5 linked regions of the Homo sapiens genome follow. The protein of the gene in region 1 purifies or fractionates together with the protein of each later gene. This does not show direct contact. Each region holds a gene or a part of one and is shown in the gene's direction. Other genes may lie near its edges. The genes, in order: GTPBP10, GNLY, DHX40, ATAD3A and DCUN1D5.

Region 1 (4,082 bases):
ATCAAGACGGGGTTTTCACATCATGTCTTTCCAAATAATCACTGTCCTAAGTGAGGAGTAGAAGACACTGTCACATTGAGGTATTAGTCAGTTTTCACAGTGCCATAAAGAACTGCGCAGACTGGGTAATTTATAAAGGAAAGAGGCTTAATTGATTCACAGTTCTACATGGCTGGGGAGGCCTTAGAAAACTTATAATCATGGCAAAAGGGGAAGCGGAAACAAGCACCTTCTTCACATGGCAAGCAGGAGAGAGAAGAAAGAAGGAGGAACTTCCAAACACTTATAAAACCGTCAGCTCTTGTGGGAACTCCCTATCAGGAGAGCGGCAGGAGAGAAACAGCCCTGCATGATCCAATCACTTCCCTACTTCCACAATGGGGATTACAAATGAAGATGAGATTTGGGTGGCGACACAGAGCCATATCGTATCAAAGTATGAAAGGTTTCTAGGATTTATTAGTTTGGGTTGTTAAGAGTTATACGGCTGGCAACGCTGTGCAGGGCCGTTTACTTCAGCTGCATACATTTTTTCGCTGCATGAGGGGTTGGGGAGAGCTACTCTCTTCTGGTCCTGAAAAGTAATCAAGAGAGAGAGGGATTTTTCACATCGTGTCTTAATTCTCACAAAGGCACGCTTCAAATGACGGATAAAAACCCGTCTTCCCGACTCCAAGAAGCTACTTTCTGACAGTTGTAAACAAGCTTCTTTCTCTTACTGCACAGGAGAGTCCTCTTACAGATCTCAGATCCTGACATTATTTTCAATAAAACTTTGTGCGGCCGCTAGTTTTAAATTCATGGTCTCCTGGAAGCTTTGGCTGGAGACTACTCAGCTCGTCACTGAACTAACGGCTTTTGGGGGTTCTTTTTTCCCAGTTGAGTTTCTGTGTCTTTTACACGTTTGGTTTTATGGTCCGTTGGAGGTTTTTTCACGCTGAGGGTGAAGATTCTTAGTTTCCTCAATTAGCATAAAAGCTGCTCCAAGGCTGCTGAGTCTTCAGTTCCATTCCATTCAAAATGTTAATTCCTGAGACACGCAACCTACGCCCTACTGTCCTTTGTCCCACGGCTTCTCGAGATTATCTCTGTGTTTTAATAGATAAAACGCCTTCTCTCCCCACCCGTGGGGTGCAAAGCACAGCGCATGGGGCTGGTGGCGCCCGAGAGCATCACACAACGCATGCGCCAGTCCGCAGGTGTGGGCGGAGGAGAAATCGCGTCGGCGGCAGGGGATGACGTAAAAAGGCCGCGCTGTACTGCGGCTTGTGCCGCTTCCGCAAGAAGGTTTCCTGGCCTGTTGCAGCCATGGTGCATTGCAGTTGCGTGTTGTTCAGAAAGGTCCGTGCGGGTCCCCTCAGCCTGGTCCCCTTAGCGCTGACAGCTCTGGTTCTTCTTTGCTCCCCTGTCTCTCCACTACTGTCTTCGTGGCGGCCTTTTCCTTGCTTGGTTTTCCCATAGACTTCTCCGCCCCTCCTGTAGTGGCGCTTTGTCAGTAAGCGGTGACAGTGGTGTGTGTACCTGGCGTGGTTTGGACGGTTGTTTGGGGGCAGGGGCAGGGTTTGAAGTTCTTTAGAGACATAGTGTGCACGTGGTATGAGGAACTGGGATACCTGCCTGCTGTGGCCCAAATGTTGTGGTGGTTTTTTTTCCTTTAATGTCCACAGCCTGTTTTTATATATTTCTCCTTGAGTGCGCTGTTTAAGGTTTTTCTAATGGATTTTTATGAAGACACGAAAGCGTGTAATTGATGTGCCTTCCTGCAGAACATTTAGGTCGATTTTTGTGTGGTGTCGGTCTTAAGAATCGTTTCCGTAAAAATTTACAACTGCTTTGAATTTTTATTTTTTAAATCTTATCCTATCAGTAATGCTTTTTGAAACGTTGCCTGCGTCATATTTGGCCATTACTTTATTTCTAACGACCAGAGTAAAATACTCCTTTTAAGTAAGGCTCCTAAACCCCTGAATCTGATTAATCTAGAGCAGGAAAAAAGTGTTACATATTTAATGGAACTGTAGAAACTCTCCTCGAGTATATCAGAATGGTCAATATTTCAACTTTCTTGAAAAAAAAATCCCATTTGTTTTTTATAATAGCTATCCTAAATGACTAGAGATGTGGATTATGAATTTAAGAAATTACTCCTTAAGTTATTTTGATTTTAATAGCCTAAGAGGTTAATACGTAAGTCCTTTACCTACAAGAAGTTCTTGATTTAGTGAAGGAAACAGGTAAACACTAAATGCAGCGTGAGATTTATAAAGGTGTAATAATAGAGATATAATCAAATTGCTGGGAGAGCCAGCAAAGTCAGAGAATTGATTAGAGGAATTTGGAAAGACGTTAGAAAATATGACGTTTAGGTGGATTTATGATAGGAAAAACAAATGACATTCTAAGTAGAGGAAAAGCATGAGCAGAATGGCATGTAGAAATGGCGGTATTTCATGTAGTACAGAGCAAAGAGGAAGAGAGGAAGGGTTGAGCAAGTGAAAAGGATACAGGAAGGAACTAGGCATGGTAGGTGAGCCTATTGTTCTTGCTACTTGGGAGGCTGAGGTGGGAGGATCCCTTAAGGCCAGGAGTTCAAGACCAGTCTGGGCAACATAGCAAGACCCCATCTTTAAAACAGTCGGGGTGGTGTGGTGCCTGTAGTCCCAGCCATTTGGGAGGCTGAAGTGGGAGAATTGCTTGAGCCCAGGAGTTTGAGGCTGCAGCAATGATAGTGCTATGATAGTGCCACGGCACTCGAGCCCAGGCACCAGAACCAGACCCTGTTTCAAAAAAAAGAAAATAAAAGATACCAGAAGGGTATTTTAGTAGCTTTGGATATACAGTTGACCCTTCAAGAACATGGGGGTTAGAGATGCCCCCGCCACAGCTGAAAATCTTCATGTAACTTTCAACTCCCCCCACAAAACAACTACTAATAATCTGTTGGCTGGAAGCCTCACTGATAACATAAGCCGTCAGTTGACACATATAAAATATATATATAGTATATACTGTATTCTTAAATTAAGCTAGAGAAAAGAAACAGTTACTAAGAAAGTCAGAAAGAAGGGAAAATATATTTACTGTTCATTAAATGGAAGTGAATTGTAAAGGTCTTCATCCTTATAGTCTTCATGTTGAATAGACTGAGGAGGAAGAGGAGGAGTTGGTCTTGCTCTCTTGGGTGGCAGAGGCAGAAGGGGTGGGGGTGGAGGAGGTGGAAGGGGAGGCAAGAGAGGCAGACACACTATGTGTAACTTTATGGAAGTACATCATAATTTCTGTCATGCTTTTGCTTTTCTCTTTCCCCCAAAAAAATGTTTCTATAGGGTACCAATACCTCTTCCACCATTTGCTTTGGTTTCAGTGCCTCTTCACAGAAGGGTCCATGTCATAAAAGAAGTCAAAAGCAGTCCTGAACAATAGGAGCTCTTCTGCCAGATTATCTAATGTTCGTTTTTCTGGTAGTTTATTCTGTGTTTTCTTCCTTGTTATCTGGCACTGGATCTGAAGCACTCATCAAGCTGTCTTCTGTTAATTCCTCTGGTTTGGTGGCTGTTAGCTCTTGAGTTTCTTCAAGATCCATATCTTGAAGTCCTTTACCCACTTTCCCGCCGTTTTTGGCATATTCACAGCCTCTTTCATGATTTCCTTGATTGGCTCTTTTGTAAATCCTGTGAAATTATAACACAACACAACACCTGGACAAAGTTTTCTCCAGCACGAACTTACTGTTTGGGGCTTATGGCTTTCATGGCTTTTTCAATAATAATGGCATCTTCAATTATGTAAACTTCAGATTTTCCTGAAGTTTTCTCTATTAGTGTTCTTTTCCATGGTTGACAATCCTTTTCGTAGAAAATCATGTTTAATGAGCCTTAAAGGTCCTTGCGACCCCGTGATCTAGAGGCTGATTTACAGACATTGTGTTTGGGGGCAAGGACACCACTTCAGTGCCTTTGATGTTGAACTCATGGGGTTCTGGGTAGCGGGGAGGTGGGGCACTGTCCATTAGCAGAGGAACTTTACAAGTCAGTCTCGTATTGGGAAGGTACTTCCTGACTTCAGGGAGAAAGCATCCATGG
Region 2 (4,148 bases), on another chromosome or scaffold:
GTGGTCTCATCTACTTGGGAGGCTGAGGTGGGGGGATTGTTGGAGCCTGGGCGGTTGAGGCTGCAGTGATCTGTGATTGCACCACTGCACTCTAGCCTGAGGTACAGAGCAAGAACTTGTATCAGAAAAAAAAAAAAAAAGTCCTGCGGTAGCTGACACTGCCATTGCCTATACGATTCCCATTCCCTCATCCTCCCTAGCAGGATATCAATTTTGTTCGAAGTGTCAATGAAGGCCAGGTGCGGTGGCTGATGCCTGTAATCCTAACACTTTGGGAGGCCGAGGCAGGCGGATCACCTGAGGTCAGGAGTTCAAGACCAGCCTGGCCAACATGGTGAAACCCTGTCTCTACTAAAAACACACAAATTAGCAGGGCATGGTGGCGTGCACCTGTAATCCCAGCTACTCAGGAGGCTGAGACAGGAGAATCACTTGAACCCGGAGGTGGAGGTTGCAATCAGCCAAGATCACACCACTGCACTTCAGCTTGGGTGACAAGAGTGAAACTCTGTCTCAAAAAAGAAAAACAAAACAAAAACAAACAACAACAACAAAAAGCAAAGTGTCAGTGAAGGTCCAGCAAAAGACTCCCTTCCTATTGCCCTTTGCAGCCAGGGTCATCATGTGACACAGTTCAGATCAATGAGATGGAGGCTGAGGGTCCCTGGGAAAGATGTTTTTCCTATACAGGTACCACCTCTTTCAGCTTCACTCTTTCCATTTTCCACGTGAACAGGCCTTGTAGCCTGGAGGAGCTACAGCTGCCTTTTTGAGATGCTGAGGCACCCTGTCTGAAGAAGGCCCTCACATCACTCAACTTGACTACTGGGTGAGCCCTTGGAGAGGCTTCCCAGCCTCTGCTCTTCAAGCCGAAGTACCACAGGGGACACGAGTCCCAGAGTTACAGGACCCCAGCTATGGTTCATGTGTAAAGGGAACCATTAGGCAACCAGGGGAAATGATGAAGAAGATCTACATTTACAAATGTGGAAAGATGTTCGTGGTATATTGTTAAATTAAAAAGCTGTTTAAAAATAGTTTTTGGGTCAAGTGAGATGACTCACTTATACTTTTAGTATAAGTATGTCCCATGCAATATCTGGAACGTACTTGTACTAAGGGGTTTCTCCCTCCATCGGCACATCCCAGGCATCCTGGCAGCTGCTGGCCTCCAGCAACCCCACATTCTAGTTGTGTGGGAGTGGGGTGTGGCATGGACCCTGTGGGCTACCACTGCCCTGAGCTGCTTCTTCACACACTGGTATTTGTATCTGTGGTAAACCCAGTGACACGGGGGAGATGACATACAAAAAGGGCAGGACCTGAGAAAGATTAAGCTGCAGGCTCCCTGCCCATAAAACAGGGTGTGAAAGGCATCTCAGCGGCTGCCCCACCATGGCTACCTGGGCCCTCCTGCTCCTTGCAGCCATGCTCCTGGGCAACCCAGGTAAGGCCTTCCCCTCGGGATCGATCCTGATGGCCCACCCAGCCTCGCACTCTCAGGCTGGCTGAACCTGGAGCTTGGACTCTGTGGGCACCCAGGTGCCCCTGCCTCCCCCCGGCCTTCTCCCCCGTCATGGAGGCCTGGCCTCCCCTCAGAGCCAGGCTTAGTCCAGTGTGCTGCCCAGCCTGTCACTGGCCTGGCCAAGGAGGAGAGACAGGCCAGGGATTCTGGTCCTAACTCTACTGGCCACACTGTGTGGCCTGAGACCCCCCTTTCCCTCCCAAGCCCCTGCCTCCGCATCTGCGTGGTGAAGGCCATTGGCCCTCATCGGTGGATCTGCGTTTCCTCGGGCCTACACTGTCTAGGATTGTGCGGGGCTGGTGAGAGAACAAGATCTCTTCTGTGTTCAAGGCAGACTTCCTGCCCCCTGCACCCTGCTCTCTCCCAGGCCTTGAGGTCAGTGTGAGCCCCAAGGGCAAGAACACTTCTGGAAGGGAGAGTGGATTTGGCTGGGCCATCTGGATGGAAGGTAAAAAAAGAAAATCCCTTGAAAGGAGATTGAGGGAAGTTTCTAGACAAACCGACCCCCAAATCTGTGTTGCTGGGGGAACAGAGGAGAAGAGAGAGTCTCGCCCTCCTGGCTTTCTAGAAGGAACGTGAGAACACGTGTTTGTGCTGAGAGTGGGTCAGAGCGGCTCCAGGGCAAAGCATGTGGACAGGTATCCTGGCCCCCTGCAAGGCCCAGCTCCTGTCCTAGGCCCTGGTCACCTCCTGGACTCCCACCAGCCAGGAGAACGGGCTTTCCCTCTCCTTCCGCCTGCGGAGGGGAAGCTGAAGTCTGGTCTTCCTCAGGTCTGGTCTTCTCTCGTCTGAGCCCTGAGTACTACGACCTGGCAAGAGCCCACCTGCGTGATGAGGAGAAATCCTGCCCGTGCCTGGCCCAGGAGGGCCCCCAGGTACGTGTTGGCTCTCTGCTCACCTGCCACAGTCCCTCTCCTTTCCCTCCTCCCTGGTGGCTCCTGGGGTGAGGTCTGGAGCTCTCTAATGGTCAGGAGGTGGGAGTGGAGGCTGGGCTGTTTCTGACGATGCTGGTTTTGTTGAATTCATGTCTGGCCAGGAGGGCTACAGGTATCTGGCAGACTCCTCCAGGAGGATCCTCTGGGGTCTCACCCTCCAAGGAGCCTGGGGCTGCAGAACCCAAATAGGCAGACTCCCCTGGGAGTTCCTCAATAGGAGAGGGGCAAGTGCAGGGCTGGGAAAGTACTGGGGGTGTGGGAGGCTGTTTCTGGGGTGTCTCAGAGCCTCTAAGACAAGCAAAAGGGTGGGCAGGGGCCAGGCAGCCAGTTCAGGCCTTCAGTGTATCCACGCTCTGGGAAGAGATCACGGACATTCCTGCCGGCCTCAGAAACACAAAGGGCCCCTTTCCTGGGCACTTTCACGCGCTCCCAGAGTGTCTGAGAGACCATCATAAGGGCTTTCTTTCCTGACAGGGTGACCTGTTGACCAAAACACAGGAGCTGGGCCGTGACTACAGGACCTGTCTGACGATAGTCCAAAAACTGAAGAAGATGGTGGATAAGCCCACCCAGGTGAGGCCAAGGGGCTACAGAGCCTCCTGTCTGCTGCTCAATGGAGGGGCCAGCCTGTGACCAGGTCGGGGATCGGGGAGCCCGGGGGCACCTTGCACAGTGATCCTGGGGGAGGGCTTCCTAGAAGGGAATCTGTGAGTCCCCGTGTGTCTGTGGATGAATTTCAGAGAACTTGTGAAATTGTGACTCTCTGGAACTGTGTAAGTCAGACGGCAGAGTATACATGGTTTTCATCATGTATCCTCAAAGAGGGCTTGTCCCAGAGAAGTTAGGAATCTTCCCCTAAAGCCCTAACATTTGTGTCCAAGGCAGAGTTTGAGAAGCTAGTTCCCCAAGAGGCCTGGGTCAGGACTGATAAATCCCAGATCTGCTACTTCCAAGCTGCATGGCCTTGGGCAAGTCACTTCCACTTTCTGAGCCTCTGTTATCTTATCTTTGAAATGTGATGGATAATAGTCCCTATCTTGCAAGTTGTCAAACCCTTTTTTTTTTTTTTTCCTTGAGATAGGATCTTACTCTGAGACCCAGGCTGGAGTGCACTGGTGTGATCTTGGCTCACTGCAACCTCTGCCTCCCTGGCCCAAGCAATTCTCCTGTCTAAGCCTCCTGAGTACCTGGGGCTCCAGGTGTGCGCCACCATGCCCAGCTAATTTTTGTACTTTTGTAGAAACAGGGTCTCACTGTGTTGCCCAGGCTGGTCTCCAACTTCTGAGCTGAAGCAATCCACCTGCCTTGGCCTCCCAAAGTGTGGGATTACAGGCATGAGCCACTGCACCTGGCTGCTGAAGCTTTTTAAAAGAGCTGAGGGCTGGGATGTACTTAGCTCCACGTCCAGCACTGAGTAAATGCTTAACGAATGACTGTGTTACTACCAAGAATTATTGTTTCACTCTCCCTCCTTCCCTCTCCTCTGCTGCCCCAAACTACTCAGCATCCTGGCACTGCAGGCTCGCACTTAGCCCTGGATACCCAGATTCATCCTCCTCCCCTGGGATGGCATAGAAGAGACTTTAAAACCAAATGAGCCAAGACTCCAAGCTCTGACCACACCTCCCACCCCACCAGTCTTCTCTATGCACCCCCTCTATCTGGAGCCCCCAGCCAGGTCCTGGACC
Region 3 (2,639 bases), on another chromosome or scaffold:
ATTATGCACTTAATAAAATGTGAAATCGTGTCTATCGTGGTATAAATAAATGAGTAAAAGTTTATTGAGAAATGGAATTGTTTACAAGCACCTCTCCATAAAATTTTTGTTAATTACAAAAGCAAAAAGTAACTTTACAGTGGAGAATCCTGGCATATGTGACCTAAATCAAGCAATCAAAGTGAACATAATGAAATAAATAAAAATCATGTTCTTCCTGATAGGATACAATGAGAAAAACACAGCATTATGTCTGTGATATTCCTGCTAAAGATGCATAACCTGAATCTAATCATCCTGAAACAGACAAACTCAAACTGAGGGACATACCACACAGTAACTAGCCTTGACATCTTTAAAGGTGCCAAGATCATGAAAGTCAAAGACTGAGGAAGTATTCCAGAATGAAGGAGACCAAAGGGAAATGAAAAATAAAGGCAATGTATGATTCTGAATTACATCCTTTTGCTATAAAGGATATTATTAAGACAAATTGGTGAAATGTCAGTGGGGTCTGAGGATTAATTGTTAGTAATGTATCAGTGTTAATTTCCTGGTTTTGATGGTTATAGTCATGTCGGAGAATGTTCTTGATTGTTGATTGTAAGAAGTGCACAGTCGAGTATTTGAGGATGATGGGGTATTAGGTTGGCAGTTTGCTGTCAAATGATTCAGGTAAAAATTTTTTTACTCTCAACTTTTCTGTAAATTTAGATTGTTTCACACTTTTAAAAATATGGTATATCTTGGTTACCCTCTGTATGCCAAACACTGGGCAGGTACTAAAAATAGAAAAGTAGAGTAACATGAGTCCTTACATCATTCTTGATGATACCTGAGTCTAATGGAGGGTACAGATATGTAAGTGAATAATTACAGTGCAGTCTGATCTGGGTTATACTATGAATATATACAAAGTACTATAGGAAATAAATTATGACAAATGAACTAGGTTTATTTTTTTGACAAGTTTTTTGGAATGACATTTAGGTAGGGTAATGTAGAAGAAAATAAGGGCATGAATCGGAAAAATGATAGATTAATTGTCAAGTTTTAGAGTAGTGAAAAAATCATCCCTTTAAAAAGAGATGCAGCATAGTATAACATAAAGAAACCATATTTAAGTCAGAAGAACTGTTTAGGACTTGGTTTTACCATGCGTTAGCGCTGGTGATCTTGAGAAGTCTAGCTAATTTATTTGAATTTTAGTTTTGACTTTTTAATAAAGTTCCTGGCTCTCAAAGCTCATAGATTATTGTTAATATTTGTACTGATTCCTTATACCTAATTGTAGTGACTTATACCTAATTGTAGTGACTGTTTAACCTGTATAATTAATTTAAGATGAATTGGTAGAGAGCTTGTAGTGACAGTTGAATAAATGTAAACCTCTGCTTATAATGCTGTTTGTAGTAGAACATATTGTAATTGTTCATTGCTGAATGTAATGCTCCATTTACTTCATTGCTTTACTGTTGTAGTCTTTATCATTTTGTTTTTCTGTTTATAGATCTGTTGGGAGAACGTTTTGCACAATGGATGGTCGTGGAAGCCCAGTTCACATTCATCCTTCCTCAGCAGTAAGTACTTCATTTTTAATAAAGGGAAGAAATTTGTAAAGTTGTAGAAATAAGTAATATACAAATGTCTTCTACTTTTCACTTTGGAGTTAAATTTACATATATCTATATTACATAGATCTATAAGGGTATTGGTTGGCCTGTGCCTCCTGTTTGAAGAAGATAGGAATTAATTGAGAAGGATTTGGACTATTTGGTTGGTTTAATGTGGAATAGGGCAGGTTATTGAGTTACCATCATTAAAAGAAATGTTTTGTATAGCTTCATGAACAGGAAACCAAACTTGAATGGATCATTTTTCATGAGGTATTGGTTACCACCAAAGTCTACGCAAGAATTGTATGCCCAATCCGTTATGAATGGGTAAGAGACTTGTTACCCAAGTTGCATGAATTTAATGCACATGATTTGAGCAGTGTGGCCCGACGTGAAGTGAGAGAAGATGCAAGAAGGAGATGGACAAATAAGGAAAATGTAAAGCAGCTAAAGGGTGAGTAAATCATTTGTTCTACTCTTAACCACTATGCCATACTGCTTCCCAGTAGTACTTCACTATTTTTGTTTATAAAAATGTTGTGACCCACCTGGGCAATGTGGTGAGATCCCATCTCTAGCAAAATAAAAATAAAAATTAGCCAGGCATGTTGGTGTGCACCTGTAGTCCCAGTGACTTGGGAGGCTGATGCAGGAGGATCGCTTGAACCCAGGAGTTTGAGGCTGCAGTGAACTGTGATTTCACCAGTGCACTCCAGCCTGGGGGTGACAGAGTGAGACACTATCTCTAAAAAAAAAAAAGTGATGATTTATGCATTATTAACTCAGAATCCCCTTTGTTTCCAAGGGGCTTTTTCTTTCTTTCTTTCTTTTTCTTTCTTCTTTGAGACGGAGTTTTGCTCTTATTGCCCAGGCTGGAGTGTAATGGTGTGATTTTGGCTCACTGCAGCCTCTGCCTCCCGGTTCAAGCTATTCTCCTGCCTCAGCCTCCTGAGTAGCTGGATTACAGGCATGCACCACCACGCCTGGCTAAGTTTGTATATCCAAGGGGCTTTTTCTATGAAA
Region 4 (3,521 bases), on another chromosome or scaffold:
GGTTCACTGCAGCCTCTGTCTCCGGGGTTCAAGCCATCCTCCCACCTCAGCCTCAGAGTAGCTGGGATTACAGGCGTCCGCCACTGCGCCCAGCTAATTTTTGTATATTTAGTAGAGATGGGGTTTCACCACATTGGTCAGGCCGGTCTCTAACTCCTGGACTCAAGTGATCCACCCGTCTCAGCCTCTCAAAGTGCTGGGAGTACAGTAGTGAGCCACCGCGCCCAGCCAAAAGATTTTTATGGTAAAGTTTTATGATGGGAAAACTGTCATCCCAGAAAATTTTGAGACCTGATGCTGAGGCCTCAGCAGCTCAGAGAATACGTACTTCTGTCCCACGACACCCAAACATCGACCTGTGTCAGTTCCCCTCTAGGAACAAAACGTAACTGAGGACGTTGTCAGATGCTTGTCCTCGTCACCCTGAGCTTGTTGGCTGGTATCCTATTCTTATTCATTCCCTTTCTTGCCTGCATGTGCTTGATAGCAGATCAATGACAACAGCCATTGGAAGCTTAGGAAAAGCGAATGTAACGTGAAAAAATAGAGGACACTTTAGCCATCGCCTGACTTTCTGTTGAATTGGGAAAGAGCCTCCTCCCGTCCACGTGGGATGGCCTTCCTGATGTGGCTCTCCAAGACCATCCCTGGGGGGATAAAACCTCACAAATGCATCAGGCCGTGTGCTGGGGATGGTGCATCGTCACGCCAGGTCTGACTAGGAAGGAGGATGGGGAGGCAGGGCTGGGGGCTTTGAGGTCGAGGCGTGGCCGTGGATTCCAGAAAGCCCCTTGGCTGGTGTGCGTGCCTGCCCAGCGGCATCCGTGTATCCTAACACCTGCCCTCCGTGTCCTTGCGTCTGCAGGTTATGCCAAGGACGCCCTGAATCTGGCACAGATGCAGGAGCAGACGCTGCAGTTGGAGCAACAGTCCAAGCTCAAAGTGAGTGGGGCCGGTGTGGGTGGGGAGGCCGGGGCGCACATGGGGTTCGGGCATGGAGATTGGTAGGGCTACTGCCGGTGGGTAGGGCCGGGGGTGTGTACATGGGCAGCAGTGGGGCCCAGGGCCAAGCTTGGGCGCCTCATTTCACAGAAGGAAACAAAGGGAGGTGAGAGACGCTGCCGCAGAGCCGCCCGAGAGGGAGGGCTGGTGTTGGTGAGGGCGTCTGGTCGTCCGGAGGGAGGGCCGGTGTTGGTGAGGGCGTCTGGTCGTCCGGATGGCCTGGATCTTCTCATTTCATTACACTCAGCAGGATTTTTTTGTTTTATTTCGTTTTATTTATTTATTTTGAAACGGAGTCTCTGTTTCCCAGGCTGGAGTTCTGTGGTGCCATCTGGGCTCACTGCAACCTCCGCTCCTGGGTTCAAGCAATTCTCCTGCCTCAGCCTCCTGAATAGCTGGGATTACAGGCACCCGCCACCACACCTGGCTAATTTTTATATTTTTAGTAGAGTCGGGGTTTCACCATGTTGGCCAGCCTGGTCTTGAACTCCTGACTTCAAGTGATCCACCTGCCTCGGCCTCCCAAAGTGCTGGGATTACAGGCTTGTGCCACTGTGCCTGCCTTGTTTCATATTATTATTTTTTTATAGACAGAGTCTTAGTCTGTCTTCCAGGCCGGTGTGCAGTGGCGTGATCTCAGCTCACCGCAACCTCTACCTCCCGGGTTCAACCTCTTTCCTCAGCCTCCGAGCAGCTGGGACTACAAGAGCCCGCCACCACATCTGGCTAATTTTTGTATTTTTAGTAGAGATGGGGTTTCACCATGTTGTTCAGGCTGGTCTCGAACTACTAACCTCAGTTGATCCACCCACTTTGGCCTCCCAAAGTGCTGGGATTATAAGCGAGAGCCGTCGCACCCGGTCCACTCAGCAGGATTCCTAAAATAAGCATGAGCTCTGCCCTCAGTGCAGTCCAAAAGGGGGTGTCCGGCCTCCCTCCCGGGGGGCCTTCGCGGGCTTCTGCTGGTGCTTCTGTGCCTGTGGGTCTGGATTCCTCCAGGGCCTGATCCTGGGTGCAGATGCGGCTGGAAGCCCTGAGCCTGCTGCACACACTAGTCTGGGCATGGAGTCTCTGCCGTGCCGGAGCCGTGCAGACACAGGAGCGGCTGTCAGGCAGTGCCAGCCCTGAGCAAGTGCCAGCTGGTGAGTGCTGTGCTCTGCAGGAGTATGAGGCCGCCGTGGAGCAGCTCAAGAGCGAGCAGATCCGGGCGCAGGCTGAGGAGAGGAGGAAGACCCTGAGCGAGGAGACCCGGCAGCACCAGGCCGTAAGAGCGCAAGAGGCCGCGAGGGAGGCCGCCCGGCTGCGGGGAGCGGCCTGGGGCAGGACTGGGAGCTGGGTGTGGTCCCGGGGCACTCTGGAGTCAGCCATTAGAGCTGCCCTCGGAACGGCCTTGCACAAACGCCTAAGACCTGTAAGGTCCCTCACTGCTGAGCCGGACGGGAGGTCCCCGCGCCTCCCCACGTTTGTGTGAGGCTGATGGCGCGTCGGAGTCCCCGGCGCTCCGCCCAGTCGGCCCAGACTGCAGCTCCCGGCTGAGATGTGTCTTTGCCGCCCTCTTCTCCCCCAGAGGGCCCAGTATCAAGACAAGCTGGCCCGGCAGCGCTACGAGGACCAACTGAAGCAGCAGGTGAGCTCAGCCTCCCCTGCGAGGCGCCTGCGTCCCTGAGAACGTAGGTGGCTTTGTGGGACCAGTCAGTGGGTCAGAGGCCACGGGGCAAGAACGCTGGGGTTGCTGACGGTGGGTGCTAGAGCAGGGGAAACTACTCGGACAGACACGCACCAGCACACGTGTACAGGCACACATGCAGACGTGTGCACACATGTACATGGAGACACAGGCACCTACCCACACGGACACACACTCCTCGCACACACACTCCCAGCACACACAGACAGGTGCACCCACTTCTGCACACACGGGCACACACACACCCCTGCACACACGGGCCCACACACAGACACCCCCACACAGAGGCCTGCACTCACACACCCGCAAACATACCCCCACACAACACGGGCAGGCACACACCCACATGGACACTCACACCTGTAAACACACCCCCATACAGACAGGTACGCACATACACCCCGCACACACACACACAGATACGCACACACACACCACACACAGGTACGTACCCCCCCACACACACACAGGCGCACACATACCCCCCACAGGCTCACTGGCACCCGCGCACTCGGGCACACACACAGCCCCACACACACAGGCGCACACCCACACACACATGGGCATGCCCCCCCATAGACGGACACACACACACCCACACACATGGGCGCGCGTACACCCCCCTATACACATGGGCACAGCCCCCCCGCACACATGGGCACGCACACAACCCCCCCACATGGGCGCACAGACCCCACACACACATACGGGCACACACGCCTTCCCGTCACAGGGACACACACACACACCCGCACATGGGCACACACCCACACACGGGCGTACACACCCCCCCCCACAGGCACGCACAACCCCCCCACCCCCCGCACGGGTA
Region 5 (3,996 bases), on another chromosome or scaffold:
AACAGGAGACATAGATGTGGAAATTGGGAGGTTCTCTCTATCTGGCTTACGTCAGTTTGAGAAGTTTGACATGAAATGGAACCTTCTGGAATGAGGTTCTTTTTCCTGCTTTTCACCTGGAAAGTTTTCCCATACATGGTCCTCTTGCACCCCTAGTCCTTTTAGGGTACCTATTTCTGTGTGCTAGTTCTTTCATTTCCTTGTCTGTAACATGAGGATAATAATAGTCCTTATCTAATAGCATTATTTTGAGGATGAAATGAAATACAGGCAGTAAATATTAGTTACTCTTTGCTATCTGGAAAAACATCAATTGAACCTCATAGGATGGACTTGTGTTCAATAAGTGTTATATATAGTAGAGTCAAATGGAAAAATTGAACCACTCAGATACATTTTTTTCATTGATACATAATAGATGTATTTATTTGGGGGGTACATGTGATAATATGATATATTCATATAATTAAAATTCATTGATACATGATGTATTTATTTGGGGGTACATGTGATAGTATGATATATTCATATAATTAAAATTCATTGATACATAATGTATTTATTTGGGGGGTACATGTGATAGTATGATATATTCATATAATTAAATGAAGATAATTGGGATATCCATCACCTTAAATATTTATGTTTTCTTTACACTAGGAACATTCGAATTCTCTTTAGCTATTTTGAAATGTACAATAGTTTAGTGTTAATAGATCAGTCATCCTACTGATATATCGAACACCAGGTCTTATTTCTTCTGTCTACATAGACATATTTAGAAATGCAAATCTCTTAGGAAATTAATCTGTAATGTCAATGATGCACACTGATTTGTATTACTTGCTTTCTTTGTAGGCAGTATAGTGAAATGGTTCATTAAATGGATGCTAAATATGACTAAATGATCAATTTACAGTGTAGTTGGCACCAAGTAATAAATGCTCAGTAACATAGCTACTATGGCTGTCTTTAAAAGTGGATTGGTTTGACTTCATAGGAAGGACTCTATTTTTAAAAAAGAGAAATATTAAAAAATAAAAAGCCAAAATTCTATGATGTCTTATTACATTGAGTCTCTTAAATCAGTTTTTTTTTAATTAAGTAGCAGGACCCTATTGCAAAATAAGTTTTACCTAGAAGCACAGTATTTAAAACAGAAAGCTAAAATACTCTGGTTAAGTGGGAAGCTCCCTGTCTTCCTCGCTGCTAGTATTATTTCTGAAAAACCTCAAAGGAACTCCTTGCTCTCTGAATAGCAGGTTTTAAAAACCACTACTTGCACATTTGCACCTTGACATCAAACATGTGAACAAAGTAATAGAGTGAGAAAACTGAATTTCTATTTAGGAATTTCTATTTTATTCTCTCTATAAAAAGCCAAGAAGTGGTTGGTGTTTGGAATAACATGAAAAATATTCCAAGTATCTTTGGAAATACTTACACTAGAACTATAAGGTTTATGATAATTCTATCTTAGATTCATTATCTAGAGCTGGTCTAAAAAAGGATGATATGTAAGAACTACCAAGAGAGACTTGGAGTAGATACAAGAATGAAGGAATGAATCAATATCCAATAAATATCCATAGGCCCAGGCTTTGCTATGCCCTCTTATTACACAGGATAAAACAGTGTAGTTGTTAGTTTCTACCTTTGAAGATTATGATCCTTAAAAAGGAAACAGCTCTGTGAACAGAGACCATGTTATTCATAGGTGTTCCTCACTTGTTTCCACCACATAATAGGTATTTAATGAATGAAAAAATTCACGTCTCTCTTTGATCCTAGACTGCAAGTTACTTAAAAGAAATGGACCGTATTTTACTTATCTCTCATGGCCTGCAAATTGAGTTTGCTTACTGAATTAATGAATGAATGACCAATTGTACACATATGTCTGTAAAACGTTTACATATCCACATTCCCATTAGACTGAGATTCTTGAGGGCAGAAACCATGTCTTCAGCTCTCAGCATGGTGCCTGACTCATGGTAGGTTGTCAAAAGCATTTGCAGAACTGAATAAAACTTACGTTTAAGTAGTACTGGAGCAGTCTCACATAACCGGGCACAGTGTCTTCTAAATAGACACTAAAATTATTTCATAATTAAAGACAGATCTCACTAAGCATTTTCTGAGTTAGTGCCAGTTGAATAATATGACAATAAGCTATAGGAGTTCAGAGGAGAGTGAGTTCTGTGGACTGAAATAGTCAAAGTGGATTTTCAGAGCAGATGAGACGCGATGAAGGCTGGGGCTACTTTGGTGTTTTAAGAACATTAATTAGGCAGCAGGAAAATCTGAGGACAGGGAGACTAGTAAGGAAGGCTGGAAAGAGCCCTGGGTTTGGAGTTCAGAGATCTGTGTTCAGAGTCCTTTGCTTCTTAGTGACTATGTGACCTTGAGAAGATAACTTGAGCTCCCTTTTTCCTCTTCTGTGAGGTAGAGGTAAGATTGATGTGCATATTGATATTGTACTTAAAAGTGTTTGTAAAATGCTAAGTAAAACCTAATGCTATGCTTTGAATGTAGTGGGTTCCAAATATTTGTTTAATGACAAAGAATAAATGATATTGACTAATGAAAATAATGGAGCCACTGGAATGTCACCTCCTGCATCTGCCAGTAAACCTGTTAACACAGGGGTGGCGGGGGGGGGGGGGAAGTAAATATGTGAAGCCACCAAATCTCATGATCAGGAGAAAAACTTTGGAACTCCCATGAGACTCCAAAGTTATGTCACAGGTGAATAAGTCATGAACTTTTCATGCTGATATCATTTCTAAGGTTGCTGCCTTGTCAGAAGAAGCAAACCACAAGATAAACCATGCAGAAAATCTTTTTTTAAAAAAGTTTCCTGAAGGATGGATGGTTCATTTGTTCTGCTTGTCACTTTACTTACTAATGAGTCATTTTTTTCCTTAACCAGTAATTTGTTTTAAATTTGGTCATAAGATGGTATGTTGACTAGTCCAATGTTACAAAATAATTGGAAAAAAGATGACAGACCACCAACTGAATAAGGGAAATCTGGTTCTTGAACTTCCAATGTATGAATTGGTGATGGTAAGCTTAGTCTTTATGATGTAAGATTGGATTTATTGGAACTTCTTTATGTCCAGAAGTTGCAGCACCTTTCTTTGTCTCTGGAATGCCCAAGATCTCTACTGCATCCTGTAGACATGGAGGGTTTCCCCCCTTATTCTGGGTCTGATTATTTTTAAAGAAACACCCTTTCCTTACCCATCATGGAGACACTACTAACCTTGTATATACTTTTATTAGAGTGCTGATAACACCATATTACAGTAGCATACTTACATATCTGTTTTCTTAACTGTGAGCTCCTTGAGAGCAGGGACTGTGTGTTTTTGCTTTTATTTCACCAGTACTCAGAACTATCCACAGTATAGAAAAGCACTCAATAAATGGAATAAATGAAAATGAATAGATAAATAAATGATTTCACTTGTATAAGATGTCCAGTAATCTTTTGTGTATTTTTCTAATTCACTGTATGGCACACATTCTAGTACAACCCTGTTTATAATGTTGACCTACTATTAAAGGAATTAAACAAATGTAAGCCAAGACAAGAAATGCATATTAAAACAACTATGGTATTTTTGCCTTCCAAATTGGCACAGATTTTAAAAATTGATAATGCCCATGTTTGATGACACAAGGAGACAGGAATTGTTATACTTTGCTGGAGGGAATATACATTGGCATAGCCTTTTCTGGAAGTCATTTAGGGAGATACATCCAAAAGCCTTAGTAAGTTTCATATTTTCTCACCCAACAATTCTATGCCTATCATCTTAAAGAATAAATTTTAAAACTTTCAAAAGATTTTTATCATAACATATTTGATAGAAAAAATGAAATAACCTAAATGTTTAAGCATAGAAAATTTGTTGAATAAATTACAGCATATTTATGCAATAGAGTACTATGCCATCTTGAAAAATCCACACTGTATTTTCAAAGGGA

What was found.
Region 2: the proteins of GTPBP10 (region 1) and GNLY purify together in Homo sapiens (co-immunoprecipitation; one large-scale study listed by IntAct). This does not show direct contact.
Region 3: the proteins of GTPBP10 (region 1) and DHX40 fractionate together in Homo sapiens (co-fractionation; one large-scale study listed by BioGRID). This does not show direct contact.
Region 4: the proteins of GTPBP10 (region 1) and ATAD3A purify together in Homo sapiens (tandem affinity purification; one large-scale study listed by IntAct). This does not show direct contact.
Region 5: the proteins of GTPBP10 (region 1) and DCUN1D5 fractionate together in Homo sapiens (co-fractionation; one large-scale study listed by BioGRID). This does not show direct contact.

What each region holds. Positions count from the first base shown.
Region 1 is NC_000007.14:90,345,434-90,349,515, forward strand, and holds the start of GTPBP10 (GTP-binding protein 10), read left to right. Parts: upstream 1-1,282; 5' UTR 1,283-1,308; coding exon 1,309-1,341; intron 1,342-4,082. UniProt on the Homo sapiens protein: May be involved in the ribosome maturation process. Complements an ObgE(CgtA) function in E.coli ribosome maturation. Plays a role of GTPase in vitro. When missing, disorganization of the nucleolar architecture is observed.
Region 2 is NC_000002.12:85,693,024-85,697,171, forward strand, and holds the start of GNLY (granulysin isoform 2 precursor), read left to right. Parts: upstream 1-1,334; 5' UTR 1,335-1,395; coding exon 1,396-1,447; intron 1,448-1,729; exon of another isoform or gene 1,730-1,892; coding exon of another isoform or gene 1,893-1,973; intron 1,974-2,296; coding exon 2,297-2,400; intron 2,401-2,934; coding exon 2,935-3,033; intron 3,034-3,964; coding exon of another isoform or gene 3,965-4,057; exon of another isoform or gene 4,058-4,148.
Region 3 is NC_000017.11:59,603,605-59,606,243, forward strand, and holds part of DHX40 (probable ATP-dependent RNA helicase DHX40), read left to right. Parts: intron 1-1,510; coding exon 1,511-1,580; intron 1,581-1,841; coding exon 1,842-2,070; intron 2,071-2,639. UniProt on the Homo sapiens protein: Probable ATP-dependent RNA helicase.
Region 4 is NC_000001.11:1,515,147-1,518,667, forward strand, and holds part of ATAD3A (ATPase family AAA domain-containing protein 3A), read left to right. Parts: intron 1-487; exon of another isoform or gene 488-669; coding exon of another isoform or gene 670-712; intron 713-865; coding exon 866-942; intron 943-2,020; coding exon of another isoform or gene 2,021-2,164; coding exon 2,165-2,266; intron 2,267-2,569; coding exon 2,570-2,629; intron 2,630-3,521. UniProt on the Homo sapiens protein: Essential for mitochondrial network organization, mitochondrial metabolism and cell growth at organism and cellular level. May play an important role in mitochondrial protein synthesis. May also participate in mitochondrial DNA replication.
Region 5 is NC_000011.10:103,050,172-103,054,167, reverse strand, and holds the end of DCUN1D5 (DCN1-like protein 5), read left to right. Parts: 3' UTR 1-3,482; downstream 3,483-3,996. UniProt on the Homo sapiens protein: Contributes to the neddylation of all cullins by transferring NEDD8 from N-terminally acetylated NEDD8-conjugating E2s enzyme to different cullin C-terminal domain-RBX complexes which is necessary for the activation of cullin-RING E3 ubiquitin ligases (CRLs).